3 separate regions of the Homo sapiens genome follow, and regions 1 and 3 are each linked to region 2. Evidence: fine-mapped expression QTL. A gene starts in region 2. Each other region holds a variant in brackets. All regions are shown on one strand. Distances are from middle to middle. Region 1 overlaps NRDE2 (NRDE-2, necessary for RNA interference, domain containing). Region 2 holds the start of NRDE2 (NRDE-2, necessary for RNA interference, domain containing). Region 3 overlaps PSMC1 (proteasome 26S subunit, ATPase 1).

Region 1 (4,229 bases), 52 kb after region 2:
TTATAGAAATGCATCTTTTTTTGTTTGGACAAGGTTGGTTATGTTTTGTTACATAAAAAATTGTATAAGCTAACAGTTGCTCACATTTGTTTATAAGGAGATAAAAAAAGAGAATCAAAATTTGCAAAAGCCTTAAGACCTTCAGCTTCCTCGTTTTTTAGAGATGTTGCTTCCCCCATGGGGAGGTGGCACACGTCTGCTAAGAAGGTAGACAAATGCCAAAACAAGTGATTACAAAGCACCAAATAGCTTCTCTACACGGAGGACTCAAACACTTGGGACGTTAGTGATGCAGCCAATGGGCAGCTGCCTGCCACTGTTACTCGCCTCCCCCGTGGTCGCACAGGGGAGAATTATTATGGCCCAGCTCAGGTCTGAGTCATAAGCATTTTTTGTTTTTTTGAGACAGAGTCTTGCTCTGTCATGCAGGCTGGAATGCAGTGGCGCAGTCTCAGCTCACTGCAGCCTCAACCTCCTGAGCTCAAGCATTCCCCACACCTTAGCTGGGACCACAGGTGCGCACCACTGTGCTGGGCTAATTTTTATATTTTTGTAGAGACAGCGTTTTGCCATGTTGCCCAGGCTGGTCTCGAACTACTGAGCTCAAGCAGTCTGCCCTCTTTAGCCTCCCAAAGTGCTGGGATTACAGGCGTGAGCCACCGTGTCCGGCCAGCATCTTGTTGGCTGAGTTCTTCAGATGGTTTGTATGAGATTCGGTTCCTGGGGCTTCGTGTGAGGGAAGTGGCCTCTGTGTGAAGTCTCCATTCCTGCTTCCCTCTGGGAGACTGCCCTTGGCCGAATCACACACTCACTCGGGCACCCATCACGGCAGTTCTGCTCCTCCATTAGCTGTTTTCTTAGGTTCCCAGCAAAGACCCTGTTGGTTACCTGAGATGCTCCCAGTCCACCTGAGGAGACGTTTACCTGGACACAATCCCATAGGGTGCAGACACAGTACCATGGGAACTCCAGCAAAGAAGAGTTGCCCCCTGTTATGTTTCAGTCCTGACTTAGGAATTTCATGAGGGGTCTCAGTTGTCAGTTCAGAAGATGAGAAAGGAGGACCAGGAGAGCCAGATAGCGCCCATGAACTCTTCCCTCCCTCGAGACTGCGCCAGTCAGAGGTCAAAGGTACACGCAGGCCACGTCTCAGAAGATGAAATCATGGACGGAAGCCACACGTGGTCCCCACCAAGCTTTCACCTGGCATCCAGCCCTTCCATACCTCCGTGCAGTGAGGGCATCTCCAGCGCTGATGGAGGCTGGCCAGCTGTGTACCTGGATTTGTTGGGTTCCGAGATTAGCTGTGCATGGTTGTTACATTTTGTCAGTATCTTAGGAAAGGACACTGAAGTATGTTAGCATGGGAAGGAAGGACAGCGCTCAGTGGCTCTTTGGTTATAAATTCAGAGGCTCAGCCTCAGAACTGGAGGCTTCCACCAGGGAGGACACGCAGGAGTCCTCCGAGCCTCACAGCTGGCCCTGTGCGTGGCACTCACAGAGGCTGGGGAAAGACTGGGCCTTGCCTGAAGCAAGGTTATCACAGTTCCGTCCCTGTGACTGTGGGAGTTAACGGTTGAGAAGGACTGGCCATGGAGTCCCGGCTACTTGGGAGACTGAGGTGGGAGGACTGCTTGAGCCCAGAAGTTCAAGGCCAGCCTGGGCAACATAGACAGTGAAAAAAAAAACCAAAAAAACCAAACAAAAAACAAATAGAAAAGGGAGTGAGGCCATCCTTGGTAGATGGAGTTCCTGAGATGTAAATTGGAGAGTGGAGTCCCTGGATGCCACTGTTCAGGTTTCTGGGAAGCCGGTCAGCAGCCCTCACTGGTCCCGGGCTGGATGCTGTGCCCCGGCCGCTTGGTTGGGCAGGGCTGGCGTCCCCTAGAACCTTCTGAGGGAGGGGAGCCTGCAGGACGGGGTGGGTGGAAACAGAGACTTCAGCTCCACAAGCCCTGCCTGTGCCCACTCCTGGCTGCACAGCTACCTGTGGAGCTGCCCGTGTGGGCTGTGATTCCTTGGAGGGCTTGAGAGGGGCTGTTGTCAGCGGAGGTCCCAGGCTGGGTCTCCTTCCACACTGGGCTGGGAAGGAGGCTGTGTGGCTGAGTCGAGA[T/C]GGAGGGTTTTATATCTAGAGAGAACACGTGCTGAATATCCACACAGATACTGAGATTGCCGATGGAACTTGCACCTTTTGTAAGGTCAGTGATCACAGTCCTGGCCATCTCTTTTCTCTAAAAGATAGTTTTCAGAAAATGGCAAGTATTAAAGCAAGTGTCTTCTCTATGTTTTCTAAGATAAGTATTGTAGAAGATTTTCTCTATTTGTATAATGTCTTCAGCCTCACCTCACTGACACTCCTTGGTTTCAAGCACTGTTACTAACACCCAGAGGTGACAGCCTACAGCAAAGGAGGAGATCTGAGACTTTAAAAAGTCAGTAGTGTTCAGGATTGACACTCTGGGGCCATTTGAATGGGAGGAAACAACCCCAACACAGCAGTGGCTTCTGAGAGTGCTCCCTGGCACCTGCCCCTGTCCCACAGCCACCGTGACGGTGCCAGGCCCTCTGCACAGGTGGGCTCACTGCAGCTGAGGGCTTGTGCCCGTCATCCAGGGGCGTTTGTGTAGCCTTAGCCTCTCTGTGTCAACTAATCATGTTTGTATTTTCTCCCCCTCACCTCAGGTTTCCTTAGGAAATAAAGAAAGAAGCAAAGGTGTATTCTACAAAGCACTTCAGAATTGCCCTTGGGCAAAGGTAAGTGTTAAAGGCCATGGTGTCTTCAGCTTCCCGAAAACTTCCCGCCAGGTCTCCGTCCAGCTAGTGTCTTCCCGGCCTGCCCCGCGGCACCGGGGATGCTCGGCTCATGGACGCCATACCCTGTCCCAAGGTACATCCAGAGCCTTTTCCTGGTGAAACTGTCCCCTGTGGAGTCAGAGCCTGGCCCTACCTGGGGCTGGTGCTTCATGGAAGTGTTGCCGTGGGTAGCTGGTTTCCCAGCATTTGGTCAGAGTCCAGCCCAGATGCTGAAAGAGTTGGGATCATGTCCCAGCCTGGCTGTGAGAGCCCAGGTCAGGTGACACTCAGAAGTGAAACTGAGGGCGACGGCCAGCAATTCCTGGACCCCTTTTAAAAGAGAAGGCCTCGCTTGGCGTTTGCTCACTTTTGCGAGTTCAGTGTCCTTCCTGAACATGCCCAGTGCTGCCCGAGTTAAGAAAGTCTCAGCCAAGGGGAGCAGGGGCCGTGGAGGGCGACAGGAGGGCAGGGTCACCAGGAACCTGGCCCTTGCTTCCTGAGCTCCTCCAGGCTGACAGGAAGTGGCGGCTGAGTGGGGCGGCCTTCCTGCCTGCCCCCTAGGTGTTGTACCTGGACGCCGTGGAGTATTTCCCCGATGAGATGCAGGAGATCCTGGACCTGATGACTGAGAAGGAGCTCCGGGTGCGCCTGCCGCTGGAGGAGCTGGAGCTGCTGCTGGAGGATTAGAGAGCAGCGGGAAAACGGGCTGTGCCTGCGAGGCCAAGTTGCCCACCCTGCGGAGCTAGGAGGCGCGAGCAGAGAACGTGTGTGTTAGGAGAACTCGGCTTTTGAAATGTTCTTTCTCGATAGTAATAATGTGGGCTGCCAGCCTCTCACATCTTGCACACTTTTTGGGTGTGTAAATGACACAAAAGTTATTTACATATTATATATGTGAATATGTGTATATATGTACATAGCCAGAGAGTCATGCCACGTGGTCATTAAACCGATGATGATTGAGGCGTGGCAGCGTCCTTGCTCATTCTCTCCCTGTGCGCAGCCAGCACTGGCCCCCGCACGGTGAATGTGTTCCCTCCGCTGGTGTCGTGGTGGTCCTGCCAGGCCCTCTCTGAGATAAAGGTCTGGTTTTTCAGCACTAGGATGTCTTCCCCAGGCTGGTGAGCAGGAGATTTTGCTCTTGTGTTGAGACCCGCAGTTAACGCTTGGTGTTCTGGCCTGCACGCAGTGTGTGGCAAGTTCCCTGAGTTTACCTCGGCGGCGATGCCTCCGCCTGGAGCTGGAGGGGCAGCGTGCCCTGGGGCTGCTGAAAAACTCAGGCCTGTGGAGTCAGAACCCGCTCTTCAGCAGGTCCCAGGCCACTTGAGTGTGGAAGGCTGCCCGGGGCACTGGCAGCCTCTGGGGGAAGCCTGCTCCCAAGCCGTCTAGGAGCCGAGCACGCTGTACCGCCAGCCCCAGCCCTGCCTGCATGAGGG
Region 2 (4,204 bases):
CTGAGATTTAAAGTTGAAGACATACAGGAATTACTGCCCCTATTGTCATACTAAGCTCCTTTTTGTAAGTACTCTGCCAGGGACTTCAAAGCATTAAGGGTGTCTATTTTGGACTCATAGAACCTAATTCTTATGCAGGTCTGCAGACTTCATCAGAGTCCATCCATTCCTTGATTAGATGATTACATTTGCATCTCTGGTTTATAATGTATTTCCTAACTAAAGATCTTTAACTCCCTAGGATCCCAATAAATATATCTTCATTTACCTATCTATTTTCACTTGCAAATATTTCAGTATATATCTCTAATATATAAGAACTTTAAAAAGTAATCTCAGGCTGGGTTGGGGGGTGCTCAGGCACAGGCACCCAGCACTTTGGGAGGCAGAGGGGGGCAGATCGCTTGAGCCCAGGAGTTCGAGACCAGCCTGGGCAACATGGTGAAACCCTGTCTCTATTAAAAAAAAAAAAATTAAGCCAGACATGGTGGTGTATGCCTGTGGTTCCAGCCACTTGGGAGGCTGAGGTGAGGGGATTGCTTGAATCGAGGAGTTCGAAGCTGCAGTGAGCAGAGATCGTACCACTACACTCCAGCCTGGGTGGCAGAAGGAGACCTTGTCTCAAAATAAATAAATAAGGGTCACCTCAGTGACATAAGTACTTTAGTACATCTAACAGAATTCACAAGAATTACTTGTGAATTGCTTGTACTCTGCCTACCTTCTTATTTCTCCATCTATCTTAAAAAGGTCTTTTTACAGTTTGTCCAATCAGAATTATAATGAGGCCACAAATATGTTGTATTTGCTTGATGTGTCTGTAAGATCTTCGTATCTATTACAATCTCCTGCCCTCTTAAAGCCCTTGATATGTTAAGGAAGCACGGTTGTTTTCTATAATTTCCCATATTCTAGATTTGGCTAATTGTTTCTTGGTAGTACAAAGTCTTCTAAGTTGTTCCTTTACTCTCTATATTTCTGGTAGCAAGTGTGATTAGATTTTGGGTGGGAGGAACCGGGGTCAAGAATGCTTCACAGACAGGTATTTCCTAACTATCAAAGACCCTTGAACTTGATGGGACTTTCCATTTTTCCTTGTTCTGGGGTATTTAATATGGTAACCTGATTGAAGTTCGGATATCTCACATGACTTTGAGCCGAACTTGCAGTCGTAATTCACATAATAGCTAACACATATTAAGTGCTTTTCATGGGCCGGACTCAATGCTAGGCCCTTTATAAATATGTTCATTTAATCTTCTCAATATTTTGCAGATAAGGAAAGTAATGCTTAGAGCGTTTAAGTTGACCCAGTTAGCAAGGATGGTGTGAATTTAGGGGTCGAACTGGAATCCCAATTTCCTTAGTCCCTTTCGCGGTCAACAATTCCCTTCTCCGGTTTTCGCAGTTCCGGTTCTCACAGGGTCCCAACCACTAGGAACCCGTCACTCCTCGCTCCGCCCCCCTTGGCCCCGCCCCACCCTGCTTTGCCCTGCCTCTCCCTGCCCCGCCGCGCCCCAGTCCCTTGACGACCCTCCTCTCTGGGCCCCGCCCCTCCCGCTTCGGGGTCAAGCCCCAGAGAGCGCCGCGAAAACCACATTTCCCAGAGTGCACCGCGACGGCAGGGGTCCTCAGACCGGCGCTCGCTCGCCGGCGCCATCCCTATAGAGAAGAACGGAGGTACGGCCTGTGGTCATGGCGCTGTTCCCAGCCTTTGCGGGGCTTAGTGAGGCTCCCGATGGCGGGAGCTCCAGGAAAGGTAAGCACACAAACGAGCCGAAGAAGGCACCTGGGGGGCTTAAGAGGCTGTTTCTCGGGCCCAGGTCTAGACTTTTGCTTTGGATTTGTGTATCCATTTGTATCCCAGAGTTCTCCGCGGCGCTGCAAAGCCTTCTGGGAAAGGCTCAATCCCTCCGAGGTCTGGGGCCCAGAGGCCTGTTCTGGACCAAGGTTGTAGAGTTATGGAGGGGTGGAGAAAGACCAGCAGATGCCCTGGAGCTGGGACTTCTGTACGATGTTGTTAGGTCCTGTTCTTCTTTTCGAGCCTCAGTTACTTCATCTTTAAATTGGGAATAATGATACTCGACATCTCGAGGAAACCCTTGATGCAAATGCAGAATGTTTTTATTACATATTACTTCCTTTCCTGTTATACTTATTTCTGAAATGCTTATTAGATTGGTATTACTTAGCGGCCTAGAGCTAGGGGATTAGTATCCAAAACCTAATCAGTTTCTCTCTGGAGGGGCACAGCACCCAGTGAAAATAACTAACATTTATTCTTGAGGGCCTAGTGTGTATCAGGTTATGGCTTTACACATTTTACTTAAGTCCCAGACATTTCCAGCAGAGCTGCATTGTTCAAAATTGGGGTACATAGTTCATTTAAGAAGTAATTAATCCTGGCCAGGAGCAGTGGCCCACACCTGTAGGTGGAAGGATAGTTTGAGCCCGGGAGTTCATGACCATCATGATCAACATAGCGAGACTCCTGTCTCTTAAAAAAAAAGCCAGGCGTGGTGGTGCACACCTATAGTATCAGCTCCTCAGGAGGCTGAGGTAGGAGGATTGCTTGAGCCCAGAAGTTTGAGGCCGCAGTGAGCCATGATCGTGCCGCTGCATCCTGCCCTGGGGTGGGGGGACCTTGTCTCTAAAAAAAAAAGAAAAAAAAGTAATTCTAAATTATGTGCCATATGTGACAGGGCGCAATTGAGTCTTACCTGTCTGTTATATCCTCTAATATAGTTCCTACACTTTCTGTAACGTTTCTCCTAATTTTTTTTTTTTTTTTTGAGACAGGGTCTCACTCTGTTGCCCAGGCTGGAGTACAGTGGCACTGTCATAACTCACTGCCGCCTCAGACTCCTGGGCTTAACTTCCTGCCTCAGCCTCATGAATAGCTGGAACTACTGGTGTGCACCACCAGGCCTGGCTAATTTTTTTTAATATTTAGTAGAGACGAGGTCTCACTGTGTTGACCAGGCTGGTCTCGAACTCCTGAGCTCAAGCGATTCTCTATCTGAGCCTCCCAAAGTTCTAGGATTACAGGCATGAGCCACTGCGCTTGTCCTATTTCTCATAATTGTGAGTAATTTCTTGTGTAAAATTGTTGTCTTCCCTTACTAGACTGTAATCTCTATCAGGTTGGGCAGTGTTTGTCTATTCATTGTAGCATAGTTAGCCCCTAGCACAGGTCCAAAGTATAATAGGTGTTCAATAAATATTTTCTGGATGTACAGATCGATAGTAGTTACTTAATAATTACGTGTTGCAGGAATGCATGAGTGCACCTAAAAGAAGTGTATAGTACAAGGTGGGATATTACAGATACCATAGGTGAACTGCAGGATTAATTACTTCTTTTTATTTATTTATTTATTTATTTTTTTTTTTGAGACCAAGTCTTGCTCTGTCGCCCAAGCTGGAGTGTAATTGTACGATCTTGGCTCACTGCAGCCTTCGCCTCCTGGGTTCAAGTGATTCTCCTGCCTCAGCCTCCCGAGTAGCTGGGACTACAGGCACTCACCACCATGCCCGGCTAATTTTTGTATTGTTAGTAGAGATGGGGTTTCACTGTTTTGGCCAGGCTGGTCTCGAACTCCTAACTTTAAGTGATTCGCCCACCATAGCCTCCCAAAGTGCTGGGATTACAGTTGTGAGCCACCACACCCAGCCCAGGAATAATTACTTCTAATAGAAGGTTCAAAGAAGGCTTTATGTAGGAACTAATATTTTTTTCTTTTACTTTTTTTTTTTTTTTTTTTGAGGCAGTCTCACTCTGTCACCCAGGCTGGAGTGCAGTGGCACAATCTCAGCTCACTGCAACCTCCGCCTCCTGGCTTCAAGTGATTCTTGTGCCTCAGTCTCCCGAGTAGCTTGGATTACAGGCATGCACCACCACACCTGGCTAATTTTTTGTATTTTTAGTAGAAATGGGGTTTCACCATGTTGGCCAGGCTGGTCTTGAACTCCTGAGCTTAGATAATCCGCCCACCTCGGCCTCCCAAAGTGCTGGGATTACAGGTGTGAGCCAACGTACCCAGCCTACTTTTTTTTTTCTTAAGTAGGGACAGGGTCTTGCTATGTTGCCCAGGCTGATCTCAGACTGCTGGGCTCAAGTGATCCTCCTGCCTCAGCCTCCCAAAGTTCTGGAATTACAGGCGTGAGCCACTGTGCCTAGCCAGGAGCTAAGTTTTGGATGGAT
Region 3 (4,229 bases), 59 kb after region 2:
GTGCTCCCAGTGGACAGAGGTCGTTCTTGTTTTCTTCTTTCTGTGTCTAACTCCTCAGAGAAACCTGGCTCCCACTGTCCTGTTTACCTGCCTGACTGCCTCCATACATAAGCAGCCTCCCTCCCCTGCCACCACCCCGTCCCTGCAGATGCCTTCCTCACCCACTTGGGCTCTCATACTGCACATCAGGCTGCCCACACTGACTCCCCCTATCGGACCACCCCAGCCCTGCACATACACCCCACACGGATGCCAGCCTCACCCTGCCCATGCTGAGTCCCCGTGCTGTGGTGTTCCTCCACATGGACAGCTCCACACCCTACTTGGGCTGACACCCGCCCTCCCCACAAGCACCCCGTCCTTACCCTGCACTGGGCCACCCCCACGTGTGGATGTCCTCTGTGGTAGGCAGAGTGGCGCCCCTAAAGATGGCCACACCCTAAGCCCTGGAACGTGTGAATGTTACATGGCAAAAGGAACTTTGCAGATAAAAATTAAGAAGATTGTAAACTTTAAAACAGGGAAATTATCCTGGATCATCTGCATGGGTCCAATGCAATCACAAGGATCCATAAGAATAGAAAAGGCAGGCAGAAAGAAGGGTCGGTGGGAGAGAGGGACTGGGCCTGCTGCTGCTGGTGGAAAATGAAGTGCCACGAGTCAGGAGGGAGGGTGGCCTTCACAGACTGGCAAAGGCCTCAGCTGGCAGCCAGCAAGGAAATGCTGACCTCAGCTGGCCCACAACTCCAAGAAATTAAATTCTGCCAACAATAATCCTCAGCAAGGAAACGGATTCTCCCTTAGAGACGCCAGAGGGAACGGTCCTGCCAACAGCAAGACTTTAGCCTGGAGACACTCGTGTTGGACTTCTGACCTACAGAACTGAGATAAAATTGTGGTTTTTATTTATTTATTTATTTATTTTTGAGACGGAGTCTTGCTCTGTCGCCCAGGCTGGAGTGCAGTGACGGGATCTTGGCTCACTGCAACCTCCGCCTCCTGGGTTCAAGCGATTGTCCTGCCTCAGCCTCCTGAGTAGCTGGGACTACAGGCACCTGCCACCACGCACAGCTAATTTTTGTATTTTTAGTAAAGATGGGGTTTCACCATGTTGGCCAGGCTGGCCTCAAACTTCTGACCTTGTGATCCGCCTGCCTCAGCTTCCCAAAGTGCTGGGATTACAGGCGTGAGCCACCGTGCCTGGCCAAATTGTGCTGTTTTTAAACAAAGCCTGTGGTAACTTGTTATAGTATTAACAGAAAACTAATACACACTCCTCATTCAGTGTGGGCCCTACAACCCACACCAGGCCACCTGTCAAGGGAACGCTTACCTTGATCTGTCCCACTTAATAGCTTTAGGCCTGATTTGTTCAGAAAGAGAAATGACGGAAATAGACGGAGAAAGGGAAGGGGAAGTTCTGACATGTTTCTGAACACCTTGAAAGGGATGAGATTTCTGAGCCCAAGGGCTCAGAAGGGCTTTCAAGATATCTCTAGGAATCCTCAGTCTCTTGGGAACACCAGTAGTTATTTTCTGCCCTCAGAGTGCTAAGAACATGCATGGTCCACAAAACTTCCAAAAAGGAAAGCTGTACTTCCTTTGGAAGCAATAGCCACATTAACGCAGCCTTTATTATTTAAACAACGAATATCCCTGGCTCTGTGGTAGTGACCATTTCCCACTGTAATTACCGTTGAACGCCAGCTCTGGGGGTGTGATGTGGCGAACGCATAGTGAGGTCCACACTCCTTGGGACCGCAGCCTGAGTTCCTGTCCAAAGGCTTCCCTGTAGCTGGGTCCACCCACAGGCTGCTGTTGAGCGGTAGGTGTGTGTGGAGACTGCAGAAACAGGAAGTGTTTGTGAAAGAGCACGCTTTATTGGGAAGCAGACTGCTGCACAGTGACCAACAGGCCACCCAATGGGCACTTACACATCGTACTCCAAAAGACACAGGATGTTTTGCTAATAAAAATCAGTGGGAACAGGGATTCCTCTGGGCAACTCCCCCAACCTCATCCCTTTCAGGGATTGAGAAATCTCCCAACCATTTTCCTGATGACAGCCATGGTTCATTAGAGATACAGCCCCTCAGGGGTGCCTTCCTGTTTCTTATAAAGAACATTTTCTTTAGATTTTTTGAAGTCTTCATTTGTTACTTTCATTCTACGTTCTCTTAAGGCCATCAGACCAGCTTCTGTACAGATTGCCTGTAAGAAAGAAGAGTGTGTTCAGAAAGTGACATACTCATTTTTATTC[T/C]AACAAGGAATTCCAAAAAACCTATTCTGAGGCCAGGCGCGGTGGCTCACACCTGTAATCCCAGCACTCTGGGAGGCCGAGGCAGGTGGATCGCCTAAGGTCAGGAGTTCAAGACCAGCCTGGCCAACACGGTGAAACCCCATCTCTACTAAAAATACAAAAAGTTAGCCAGGGACGGTGGCAGGCACCTGTAATCCTAGCTACTCGGGAGGCTGAGGCAGGAGAATTGCTTGAACCCGGGAGGCAGAGGTTACAGTGAGCCGAGATCGCGCCACTGCACTCTAGCCTGAGCAACGAGCGAAACTCTACCTCAAAAAAAAAAAAAAAAAAATCTGTTCTGAAATAAAGCATGAGACACCTAGACTAAACACAAATTGCTTATTTGGGAAAGATTTGATTTTTAAAAAAAATGTTTTAAGCATCCTATTTTCTGAAAGGATGTGAAGTGGCTTAAACTGGGAGTTACTGTAACTAAGACTGACCCAAGGGTCAGGGCTGTGGGTTCTAGTTTTGGCTCAGGTTCTAACAAGCTATGTGGCTTGTACAACACCACTTTTGTTAAAGAGAATAATATTCCTAGGAAATAAACAAAATTATGCCCTGAAACTTAGAGGCAATTGACAGTATATGTCTATTTCATTTACTTATAGTCATAAAAGAACATGTATTCTGGTTAGATACTGTAAGTGGCAGTATCTATACTATGGAATAATACTACAGAGTATAGCATTTATTCCAATATATTTAATTTCTCAGTAATTACTGGCCCAAAGTAAAAGAAAACAATAACCCATGTTACATGGGTTACTGTTATTGTTTTAGGCCTGATCTGTTTAGAAAGGAAAGAGAAATGAAGGAAATAGATAGAGAAGGACAGCAAACAAACATATTATGTGGGTTACTGTTATTGTTTTCTTTTTCTTTTGGCCAGTAATTACTGTGGCAAAAACAAGATGTGGCAAAAAACACAATCCTGGCACAGAAGTTTGTTTGGTGATGGCCATCAGGTTATTTACTTCAAATGGTTCGGGTGAAAAGAAAGTTTTGTGTATAGAAAGAGAAAAAGCAAACAGGTAAAATGTTAACTCTTGGCAAATCACTGTGCTATTGTTGCAACTTTTTTGAAGGCTTGAAAATTGTCAAAGTAAGTTCTTATCTTAAAATTTTAAGATCTTTCAATTTTTAAAAAAGAAGATAGATTTTACTTGCCAACAGAGACATCTAGTTCTCTAGGACTAACTGCCAATGATCCGTGGGCTCAGGGCAGGTGCTGGCCTGGAAAGGCACTGCTTGTGCTGTCCCTACCTAACCATGGCATTTATGCCCAACGAAAACCCAGCTCTTTCCAGGAAAAGCAGGTAGAACCCATATTCAACGCTGCCAGACCTTGCTGTAAATTCTGGTCAGCTGGGAGGAAATGTCCTAACTCATGTACATTTGTCATAAAACCAAGAAGTATAATCTGGTACAACCTTCCAGAACACAGATTGGGAGATGAATGCAGCGGGTGCTTGGTCCCCACTCTGCGGCTCTGGGGAGAGTTCTCCCAGGACATACCCTTCCCCTGACCTGGGACTGAGCAGCTACATTTGACACACCTTGAGAAAGTCACCTGGGCCTAAGGCTTAGTACCAGCGACTCAGCCTTGTGGCTCCAGGTGATTTAGCGTCATTCACTGCATAAAATGATGCATTAAGAATGACTTCAATATCAAGCACATATACCATTTGGATGTAATCGTAAACCAATATGATGATTAAAATACAGACACCCACCTGTCCAGGCCAACCACCATCCCAAGAGCACATATAGACTCTTTCCTGATTGACGGCCACATTCCCAGAAATAAGCTGACACGGCTAGGCTCTCACCTTGATGTCAGCACCAGAGAGGTCATCTTTAGCCATGATCAGGTCGTCCAGGGTTACATCATCAGCCAGCGTCATCCTGCTTGTGTGAATCTGAAAGA

The links. PIP is the estimated chance that this variant, and not a neighbour inherited with it, causes the effect.
Region 1: its variant is the best candidate, but not a certain one, in a credible set for the expression of NRDE2 in whole blood (TOPMed, PIP 0.59).
Region 3: its variant is the best candidate, but not a certain one, in a credible set for the expression of NRDE2 in whole blood (TOPMed, PIP 0.60).

The regions. Positions count from the first base shown.
Region 1 is chr14:90,277,587-90,281,815 of GRCh38, reverse strand. It overlaps NRDE2 (NRDE-2, necessary for RNA interference, domain containing), which reads left to right. Exons shown (of 14, transcript NM_017970.4): 13 at 2,683-2,754; 14 at 3,355-4,229. The coding sequence ends at 3,480. Among named protein-coding and RNA genes, the nearest start is that of PSMC1, 23 kb to the right of the region's middle. The variant T/C (reference allele first, on the strand shown) is at 2,114.
Region 2 is chr14:90,329,396-90,333,599 of GRCh38, reverse strand. It overlaps NRDE2 (NRDE-2, necessary for RNA interference, domain containing), which reads left to right and starts at 1,659. Exons shown (of 14, transcript NM_017970.4): 1 at 1,659-1,759. The coding sequence starts at 1,696. RefSeq lists a silencer at 1,426-1,575 and an enhancer at 1,726-1,905.
Region 3 is chr14:90,270,255-90,274,483 of GRCh38, reverse strand. PSMC1 (proteasome 26S subunit, ATPase 1) reads right to left here. Exons shown (of 11, transcript NM_002802.3): 10 at 4,132-4,229; 11 at 1-2,211. The coding sequence ends at 2,077. NRDE2 (NRDE-2, necessary for RNA interference, domain containing) reads left to right here. Exons shown (of 14, transcript NM_017970.4): 14 at 1-4,229. Among named protein-coding and RNA genes, the nearest start is that of PSMC1, 16 kb to the right of the region's middle. The variant T/C (reference allele first, on the strand shown) is at 2,261.